2 separate regions of the Homo sapiens genome follow, and region 2 is linked to region 1. The links come from fine-mapping of genetic effects on gene expression. Tissue or cell type: thyroid. Region 1 holds a variant in brackets; the other region holds the start of a gene. All regions are shown on one strand. Distances are from middle to middle.

What was found. PIP is the estimated chance that this variant, and not a neighbour inherited with it, causes the effect.
Region 2: it holds the start of THSD7A, and the variant in region 1 is fine-mapped to the expression of THSD7A in thyroid (GTEx, PIP above 0.99).

What each region holds. Positions count from the first base shown.
Region 1 is chr7:11,464,065-11,469,218 of GRCh38, reverse strand. All of the region lies in intron 9 of THSD7A (thrombospondin type 1 domain containing 7A), which reads left to right. Among named protein-coding and RNA genes, the nearest start is that of THSD7A, 370 kb to the left of the region's middle. The variant C/A (reference allele first, on the strand shown) is at 2,488.
Region 2 is chr7:11,830,111-11,835,264 of GRCh38, reverse strand. THSD7A (thrombospondin type 1 domain containing 7A) reads left to right here and starts at 3,067. Exons shown (of 28, transcript NM_015204.3): 1 at 3,067-3,508. The coding sequence starts at 3,319. RefSeq lists enhancers at 2,390-2,929, 2,930-3,470 and a silencer at 5,028-5,154.

The DNA.
Region 1 (5,154 bases):
ATAACTGAGCAAATTTTCCTGCAGTGTTACAAATGACGCTGTCTCCTATTTCTTATCTTACTCAACAAATACAGATAATTTTTTCTAAATTTCCTGTATGCTTTTATTTTTTTCATGTTTCTTAACACTTACTAGAGAGATTCAATTAAGAGTCAACTTCTAGCTTAACAAACTATTTTAAGTTGTCAAAATTTAATCAAATCCTTTAGGTATTATACATTTAATAATGGATACTTTTACTGTGTTACTATATTTTTATATAGTTGAAACATGATTTTCCTTTTGATGGTTTTCTATTTAATACCCTTGAAATATCCAATAAAATTAAACCACACTTAGAAGTGATAGAAAATTATTATTATTCTTTATTTTATTTTATTTTTAAGATAGAGTCTCTCACTCTGTCATCCAGGCTGGAGTACAGTGGCTCAATTTCGGCCCATTGCAACCTCAGCCTCCTGGGTTCAAGCAATTCTTGTGCCTCAGCCTCCCAAGTCACTGAGACTATAGGCACATGCCACCACACCTGGCTAATTTTTGTATTTTTAGTAGAGATGGGTTTGTGCCATTTTGGCCAGGCTGGTCTAGAACTCCTGGCCTCAAGTGATCCACCCATCTCAGCCTCCCAAAGTGCTGAGATTACAGGCACGAGCCACTGCAAAATATTTTTATTTAGGAGTCTTTTAAGACATTTAAATAGCTTTTGGCAAATTAAAAGGAGTTATAAGCATTAACTTTTATAAACATGTTAATGGCATGAACTTGCTATGCAGTGTCATTGCCTGACATTTTAATCCAGATTTTCCTCTCTTATTCCTTTTTTTTTTTTTAAGCTGAATAACACCGGTCACAGTTGGCAGTAGAATTGTACTTTCTTATAGATTAATATTTTACCTATGATGGCACTTATAGGTGGTAATTGTTGGTTATTAATTAATTCAATTAAAAAGCATTAATTACATAGAATTAATACACTTACAAATTTTGTTCTTGATGCCTTTATACTTGATCTTTTCTGTTTATATGGAATATGTTCATTTACTAATAATTCCAAGCATGTGCAGTTACATTTATAAGCAAATTGTTAATAGTCTAAAACAAATTTTAAGTGAAAATTTTGAAAGTGGAAAGACTTTGCCTTTCCCTTATTTTGGATATTTTCTTGTATTGTGTAAATTACTCTTTTAAAAAAGTTGATTTGATCTAAAGTATTTCAAGGAAGTAAAGTTTAAAAAAGAACAGAAAATATTTTATTAAATTGATTCCAGAGTAGTCACTAATAAAAGTGAAGAATCAGAATTTTTCTCATTTCTTTAGACCTTTATTTGAAAATAATTTTGGATATTGGAATGTATCCAGGAATTAGGAACCATTTTAATAGCCTATAAATTTTTTCTTAAGTTCTTGAAAACACATTTGTGATTTTGTTACGTATTATATACATCTGGAAAGGAAAGAAAAAATAGAGGTTTTTTAGGAGTAAAAAACCATACTTGAAAAGAAAATAACATGATTTTTAAATTTGTGATTTTTACAGTATGAAGAAACTGATTTGCTCTTTGCTGTTTGATCATTTATAAAATAAAAAATCTAAAACACTGTGATAACTCACATAAAGCACTTTTAAAAACTTCTTAGCAGATAGATGAGAATGAATAGATTGTGAATGCTACATAGGTCTTAATTGAGTCAGTACTTATTTGTGTATATATGTATAAATACTTATTTAATTACTTATTTATTGATTTTTGTATATAACTAGCACACTAATGGTCATATAGAGAAATCACAGTCCCAGACATCAAGGAAGCTTTTAATTGCATTTAACATATAGAACTCTTCTGCACAGCCCAGATAATGTAAGACTTACATGGTTCAATAACAAAATTTAATGGTAAAACACAAAGAGCTCTAAGGAAGGGAATGGAATAATCATGTCAGAGCAAATATATTAAGAAAAATCATACTGAAAAGGAGGTACAAGAGATCTTCTTGAAAGATGAACCACATGAAAGAATTGCAAGTGAGGATTGGAGACATCAGGAAAGCCTTAAATGACTGTGAGAAAGATGTGATTTTGGAACGACCAGCCCACTGGAGCCCAAGATGTGAAGGAAACTTTCCCAGAAGAGACTGAAGATGAGAGATCATGTGTTCCAGTGGGCGCAGCGGTAGAAGGGCTAGAGGATGTAAAGGAATGAAAAACTGAATCGTGTTATGCGGGTAGATAGTGCTGTGGGTCCGGGTGATGATGAATGACCTGGAGCTGGGGAGGGCTCATTTCTTGTGGTGAGTGGCAGGCATGTGAGGCATAATGGGTTTAGTTGGGTTGGTCTCTTGGGGGAAGGTAGGAAACCTCTGTAAGTAAAAATGCATGGTACCACTAGGATACTATTCTCTCCTGGTGTTCCTGAGATGGTGGTGGCAAGAGAGTGCAAAAATGCCAACTCGGGAATCGGCTCTCTTAGAAGCAAGAGGCTCTCTAAG[C/A]GGCAGAGCAGTGTTTCCCTGAACACAGGTCATGTCATCCGGAGCAAGGAATGAGTGCTGACTGTTTTATTTGGCAGCTCATGTTGTTTCTCCTAGAACAAAAGGTTTTCAGAAACCCTAAACCTAGGCACTCCGATTTTTAAAAAATCACCTCAGTTGGGTATTTGAGGAAATAAAAATTTTTTAAAGACTGGAGAGTGATAGAAGGGTCATTGTTGGATAACAGTGCCAAGATGCTTTGTGCTCTAGAAGCAGTTTTTTCTGTTTTGCCTGTAGACTGCTGTAACTGAGAATAAGGAGACAATGGTGTTACAGAAAGCTAGCCTTTTGTTGTGAAGAAAATAAAGTAAATGGCATGAGGTTAGTTTTTTTCATTATTTCATAAGAAATGGAAATAACCCAAGTATCATTTTGAAATTACACCAATTTACACACACCATTTAAAAATGCTAAGCAAAGTTGAATGTTCAAAGAGAGGTAATAGCAACAGAAAATTAATTCAAAGTTGGGGTGGTTCTTTTTACTTAATTCTGCGAGTAAAGTCTAAATTTTACAAAGATGTTGGGCTTATTAAAGTGCAGGACTATCCTTCTTTTTAAAATCACTTTAAGGAAGTCAAATACACAATACTATTGCACAAAATAAAACAGAATAGTAGGATTCCAGGAAGAACTAAAAGAGTTGTTTGAAATGTTATTCAGCCTTCTTCTAAAATACCCCTTGAAAAATCAATGCTGATAAAGATCAGTATTAAGTGGAGTGTAGTTTAATCCTGAGACCAGTGCACTTGCTAACGTGTTTTTCAAATTTTTGTAAATTTTGACAGAGGGCATTTTAAAAAATAGAAATACCTTATGCACATAAATTATTTGTACCTCTAATTTTAAAAAATCAATACTTTTGATCAAATAATATATTTGGTTGCTCAAATTCTGTTTGCTCCTTTTTTTTCTCACTGCATTTATTGTGTTGAGAAATAGAAGGAATATTGCAGAGGCTTCTTCCTCATGTCCTAAATCACTAGAGCACTAGAATTACCACCAAAGATCTGAATACTACCTTTACATTTTGCTTCTTGGATGAGACATTTCCCTTTCAATTTCCTATTACTGTACTGCTTCAACCTGCAATCCATCCCATATCCAGTTTAATGAATCAGTTTTGCCTGCCTTTTAAATCCTTTTCATCAAGTAATTTCTCGGTGAAATTTATTTTGAATGTCTTAAGATATCTGAAAAAATGCTATAACTGTGTGAGAGATTACATATCTTCTGAATCTGTGTACCCCATCATCACATGATTATTTGCTAGATGTACGATCTGTTTTTTCCATTCCTATCCTGGATAGGCATTTTTAAGCACAAACGTCACAGGCAGGTGCCCTTATTTTTCGCGTACTTGTTATTTCCAATGAAAACAAAGTGATAGCTTATTTTTATTAATCCTTAATGCACAGCATTGGTACCTGTGCGCTTACCACTATAAAGGAATAAGTGGAAAGAAATAGAAGGTGCTAACTAATAATCCAGTTGAGAAGATGTGAAATAAATGTGTTTGTGCGTTCAGCAAATATTTATTAAGCACTTACTATATGTGACTCTTGTCTTAGGTATAAAACACACAGATGAATAGAAACACTACAAATATATCAACCGCATATAATAAAATGAGCATAAATACAAGCAGGGGATGATGAAAGGTATAAAATTCCCAGTTTGCCAGCTCAAGTTATTAATGATGAAACTTTCATTTTTTGTTTTTAATGTGTGCTGTATAGCTTCCTTTTTTTCTGCTCTCTGATCTGAGGACTGTATAACCTGGCAAAGCTCTACAGCGCTGTAACTTTGAGTACACAAGCAATTTCTTAACTGCAATATGAGAAGAAACAGACCTGCCAATGGGTAAAAACATAGATGTCATTGACACTTCCTGTGTAACCCCATTAAACGTCTTCTCTGGGTGTCATATCTTTGAAGAGTTCCACTTGAATCAGGTCACAATCTCTATCCTGTAGGCTGTACCAGGTTAAGGAATTTGAACTTTTCATAAGAATAAATGGATTGCCACTCTGGAATCCATTAAGGACGTGAAGAGAGTCATCATAGTCTTATATATCTAGTACTAATTTGTGGAGTTTGTGATGAGAAGGCATTAGGAGAATGTTTCAGAAATGTATTCTAAGTGACATTTTTTCTTTCAAATCAACAAACAAAATAGAATTGAAACATTAATGTTTGGTAGCTGCTTCCTCAAGTAGAACAGCCCTGGCTATGCACCAGGTGCCATCTAGGTAGTTAATAAGTAGGAGCTTTAGTCTATGAGGTGCCACTAATGCTGAACTCATTGTCTCCACCAGCCCCCAAATCCCCTGGTCTTAATCCTGTGTCTGTCCTCTATCTGCAGATTGGAGAGTAATTGCCTCTAAGAATTTTGACCAACTGGGAAACAAAAACCCATTTGAGCCCTTTACGTCTTACCTCCCCATTAAAAAACAAAACAGAAACCTCCCTGCTTCCCCCAATGTTAAACAAATGTGAGTCTAATTAGTTTGTATACTTTAAAAAAAAAAGATTATGGACAGTTCATACACATAAAACAAAAGAAAAAAATAGAAATTGTAAAAGAAGGGCAAATCCAGGTAGTGAATAGGAAGGGGGTAGAAGGAAG
Region 2 (5,154 bases), 370 kb before region 1:
AAAGTTGTTTCCCTTTCCATCAAGGAACTGAATATTTCATAATTGTTTTAAAATATTGATACTAATGACTAAAAGTCATTGTCATGAGTCTCATGAGTTGTAATATATATTTATATGTTTATGTTCTAATAAAAGAGAAAACAGATGTGTATAGGTATGTTCACATCCTTACCTCTGGAGTTTAGAAATGATAGCAAAATTAATAGAGGCAGAATAAAGACACCTATCACATGAGAGGTGATAAGTTTAGAATTTTTTCATTTCTAAATATTAAAAAAATATGCTTTGCATTTGTCATTCATTGGTTTGGAGAACTTTTATCGCACTGGCTCATTAATATTTGAACAGTTCTCCATGAAAAATGACGAACGATTTACTTCATGGCAGGCTGTACAGATGGTCAATTTAATCTGCATCCTTGAGACTTCTCATGACTAAATTTTGACATCATGTCATTAAACATTTGTGTATTATTATTTATGTCATATTCTAGGAAACAAATATTGCTATGTCTTGCTATCTCTTGCCATCTATCAGTTTTATTGATAGGATTTATCTACCTAGACACTATACCTTTCACAAAGGAACACATATCAGGATATATACATCACTTTTGTCTCCTCAGAGACCCATACATTTTTGTCCTCAAGTGCAATAATGACATTGTTATGAACAAATGTGTGGCAGGTGTGGAGACAAATGTTTATATGACTTGGATTCTCTAACCTTGTTCAGAGATATCTTTGCTGATGATTGTGTGTGTTTGTGTATGTGCATGTGTGTGTGTGACTCCTAGGCCTTGTGTACGTTGAAATTGAAAGAAGGAAACCAAATGTTGGCTATTTTGAAACAGTACTGCAGAACATATCACCATAATTGTGTATTGTAAATGGCAGCAAATTGGAACCTAGAAATTGACCCCGTATAATGCTTGAATTTGTAGCTATGATGTTTACACTCTTGACAAGTTGAGTTATTATTATACCACCATGGGTAAATATAAAGGTCAGAATCTTAAAATTTCTTTTGACAATAAGCTATTAAGTATAGTGTCGGATGGCTTTTTGAAGGGCTAGGTAAATGACCTTGCACATTAACTTAATTCCTCAGACTCTCTGTCCTCTGTTATATAATGAATTCCCACTTGGTGAATTGATTGGCGCTTCCCACGAATGCGTAGAATGGCTGCTGTTAGCAGAGTATGTCCAGTTTGAAATACTTCCTGTGCCAGAGTTAGAGGATTTCAAGGTTTAGGGCACTAACAGTAGCTGAGAAATACAAGCAGAAAGGATGGGAAAATGATTCCTTGTGGAGTGGACATGGAAATTTTCCTGAAACGACAGAACCCAGGAAGCAATAGCAGGTCCCATTTCCTTCTGTGGTGTAACTGTCAAAAGAAGTGATCCTTCAGGGAACCATACATTAGTTAAGATCAGGCTTCCTTTTTATTCCTTATCAACCTATAATCTTTTGATTGTTGCCTGTTTTTCACGAGTGAAGAAATAGTAAGCCACACTAGCTTATCTCTCCTAATCACAGACTCACAGCGCTCGGGCTCTCTGAGCTTTTAATTCCTTCTTAGAGGCCTAACAGAGCGGAAAGTAAACAAAGACCAAATTTGCAACCTTCAACGTAGCTAATTTCCTCTGATGTCAGAATACTTAAACAGGCAGGACCTGGGAATTATTTGATCAAACCCGCTTTTAATCTAATGCATGCAGAGGGGCTGTGTCTGGAAGGCTTTGCAAAATGACAAGGGTCCCAAGGGAGCCTTATGGAAGGTTTCCTCTTTCAGAAAGAGTAGCTTCCTCATCTTAAACTCTAGGGTAGCTATGTTGGAGTAAATTCATAAAAAGTAGTTTTCCTGCTTTTAAAATTTTATTTTATTTGGCTGAAAATTGCTGATGGGATAGTAGTTTTCTTTGGCTTTCCGTTTGCTGAATTTTTAATGGTTAAATGCCTACTATTTTAGCTTTACTGTGAAATGAATTAATAATAAAATATATTATTATTAGCTAAAGGGAGAAGGAGAAAGGGGAAAGCATTATCCGACTTCACACACATTCTTCTATTACTACTGGTAGAAGAAAGTGAAAACACAAAGGACAAAAGATGCAAACACATGTGGTTCCTTATTTAGATTGCGACAGGCATTTTGCTACAGTAAGAGTTAAGAAAAATCGGTGTCAGGGAAATTTTAAATGAAGAATTTACTAATTCCAAGATATCCAGACAGCATTACTGACTCAGTTTGACTCACAACTATCTGAATACTTAGAAGTAGCATATTTTTGAGGGAAAGAAGTAGATGAAGGGACAGAACTCTATACCTGAAATATAATTTTAATTTTAAGGGTTTTTTTTTTGTACAATTGTATTTATGTAATTAGGTAGCATTGCAAATACTCATTAACACTAATTCAGTTTTAAAGGCTATTAAAAGACAATTTAATTTGTCACAGAGCATCAATATTGCTCATATTTTTATTGATAATAGATTAAGTTAAAAACAACATTTAAAGAAGGGTTTAAGTGCATTTTGACAAGTCAACATTTCTGCTCTCGTGTTTTCACACCTGATCTCAAATACTGCTCCCCACACAAAGTAATTCAGAAGCCATGGCTTAAAAATAGATAATAAACACTGATGCTTTGTGTAAATACGTACTAAGAATAGCATGCCACTAGATCTAGCATTTGACTCCTTGGATGACAGTGAATATCAATGCCTGTTATTTGTCATTCTGAAATCTGCCGGGTGATGATTCTTTTTATTGGTGCATCCTTCCAAACATATTTCATCGCACCATGTGCACCGGAGTTCTTTAGGCGGGTATGTCGGAGGTGGGTGTCGCCTGGCTGGCCCCTCTCCCCTTTGCTCGCCCCCTTTCTCGCCCTCGCGCTCTCGCCTCCCTCTGCCTCCAGCCCCCTCTGCTCCTTTGGGCTCACGCCCCCCTCCTCCCCCTCCAGCTGGCGGGGGCTGCGCTGCCTCCCAGACCTAGCAGACCTGCTCAGTCAGCTGGGGCCCCCTGAGGACAGTTGCCTCCGGAGCCGCCGGGACCTGCCATTCTGCGAGGAATGGCAGCGGCAGCAGCATCCCCGCCAGAGGCGGCGGCGGCGGCGGCAGCGGCCACGGCCACCACCGCGGACGCTATTGTTCCCTGGTGTTAGACGCGCTCTCCCTCCTTCTCATCTGAAGCGAACAATAGCAGGAAAGAGCTTTGCTTTCTGTACTCTTTGAAAAGACGTTCCAAGAGCGGAGAAAAATTCCCTGCCGAGCGTGCTACGGCTCTGGACCCTGGAGTGGCTGCAGGCGGCATGGGGCTGCAAGCCAGGCGCTGGGCGTCCGGGAGCCGGGGCGCTGCGGGGCCGCGCCGGGGCGTCCTGCAGCTGCTGCCGCTGCCGCTGCCGCTGCCGCTGCTCCTGCTGCTGCTGCTACGCCCGGGCGCCGGCAGGGCTGCGGCGCAGGGCGAGGCGGAGGCGCCCACCCTCTATCTGTGGAAGACTGGTAAGTGGGACGGAGTTACCCTTTCCCCATCTTCACATCTGGGGCCACATTAAGGAGCTGGTGGGCTTCTGTAGGGACCCCGGTGCTTTTGGATGGCTTGGTTATGCTGGTATCCTAAGGTAAAAAGTATGATTTCTTAGGAAGCAAATAGGTCATGTCCGATGCAATTAGGAAAGAAAAGCATAACAACTAAGAGGCAACAGTGAGTAGCTGGAATATTTCTCTCGCAGCTCTGTAATGAGGGCAACGCGCACTTCCATGATGAAGTGCATTATTTTTAACCCCTGGATTTTCATTCTACTAGGAGTTTCTCAAACAGATTTCTAGCAAAGAACAAGCAAAGAGTTTAGTCTCAGTCTTTATTCTTTAGGCAAAGCAATATGCTCACTGTCATGACATTTGTGGATATAGAGTTGAATTTGTTAACTTTAGCTTTGTGATATGTGGGACACCTCAGAAACAAGCCAAGTGAGGGCGGTTCCAACAATTAAAGGCAAATGGGGCTCCAGTGAGCCTTCAGGGAAAGACTGAAAACTCAATTATTAACTAGCGAGTCGGAGGATTTTTAAAGTGTACAACTTTTAGGATGTCTGGGTTCAAACTTTCTCTTCCTTCCTTGAGAATTGTTTTGCTTTGTTTTTCAACCACCCAACAAAAGCAGCTACTAACTGCCCATCATTACCCATTGGCAAAATGCTTGGAGTTTCTGGCGGGGGCCGTGACAGGCAGGAAAACAATACGGAGTGAGGAATTACCAACCCCTTTTCTGCGGGTTCGCTTTCTCTCTGCATTAAAAAAACATTGAGAATTCCTTAGGGGACCTGAAACTTCACATGTTCATAGGAATAAAATGGGAAAAGATTATTCCTGTTGCTTAGAGCTAGGGGGTAATTTAAGAATAACTTGGTCATGCCAAACATTAAGAGAATGTTGTAGTTGAAAGGGAAAGTATGTATTCGTCATGGGGTTGCAAACAGGTTTCAGGGAGTGAGTGTCTTTTCCTGCTTCAGCCCATCTCTGCACCACTACTGAAGAGACAGCTCAGTCTACTCTACAATTGCATCACTATCGATATCTGGAATTTTTAAAGAAGTTGCAGCTATCCAGAAATTTAGTGAGGAGATTAAACAGAAATTTATTTAAAGTCAAAGTACACAATTTGTCTTAGAAGATTACATGAAACATATACACATTTTAAAAAGCAAGATTATTCTTGCTAACACCTTAAGTTTGAAGATCAGTTGAGTAATGAATTCAAATGAAATAAAATTAATTTACTTCAATTTGAAACGAAGATTTGAAGATCTCTAATTTAGCGTAAGCTAGGGTTTTACTTGTTAAAAGCACATTCATAATGACAAACATTAATCAAATTATAATTTACCATTAAATGGTATCATATGGATGCTTGGGGAGAGCTTCTTAGGTAAGTCAGTGTAGGATGAAATAGTAGTTGCCTAGTTGAAATTTATACTAGCAAAGTAACAAGAGCCAAGCAATAATTCAGATGGAAAAGAGCCCAGCCAACATTCACTGTACAGCATCTGAGGTGTCAATATATGTCATCATAAATGTCATGGTAGGAACACAAGCCAATAAACAGTTTAAAATAGTGGGAAGCTCTCAGAAACAATGATATGGAGACC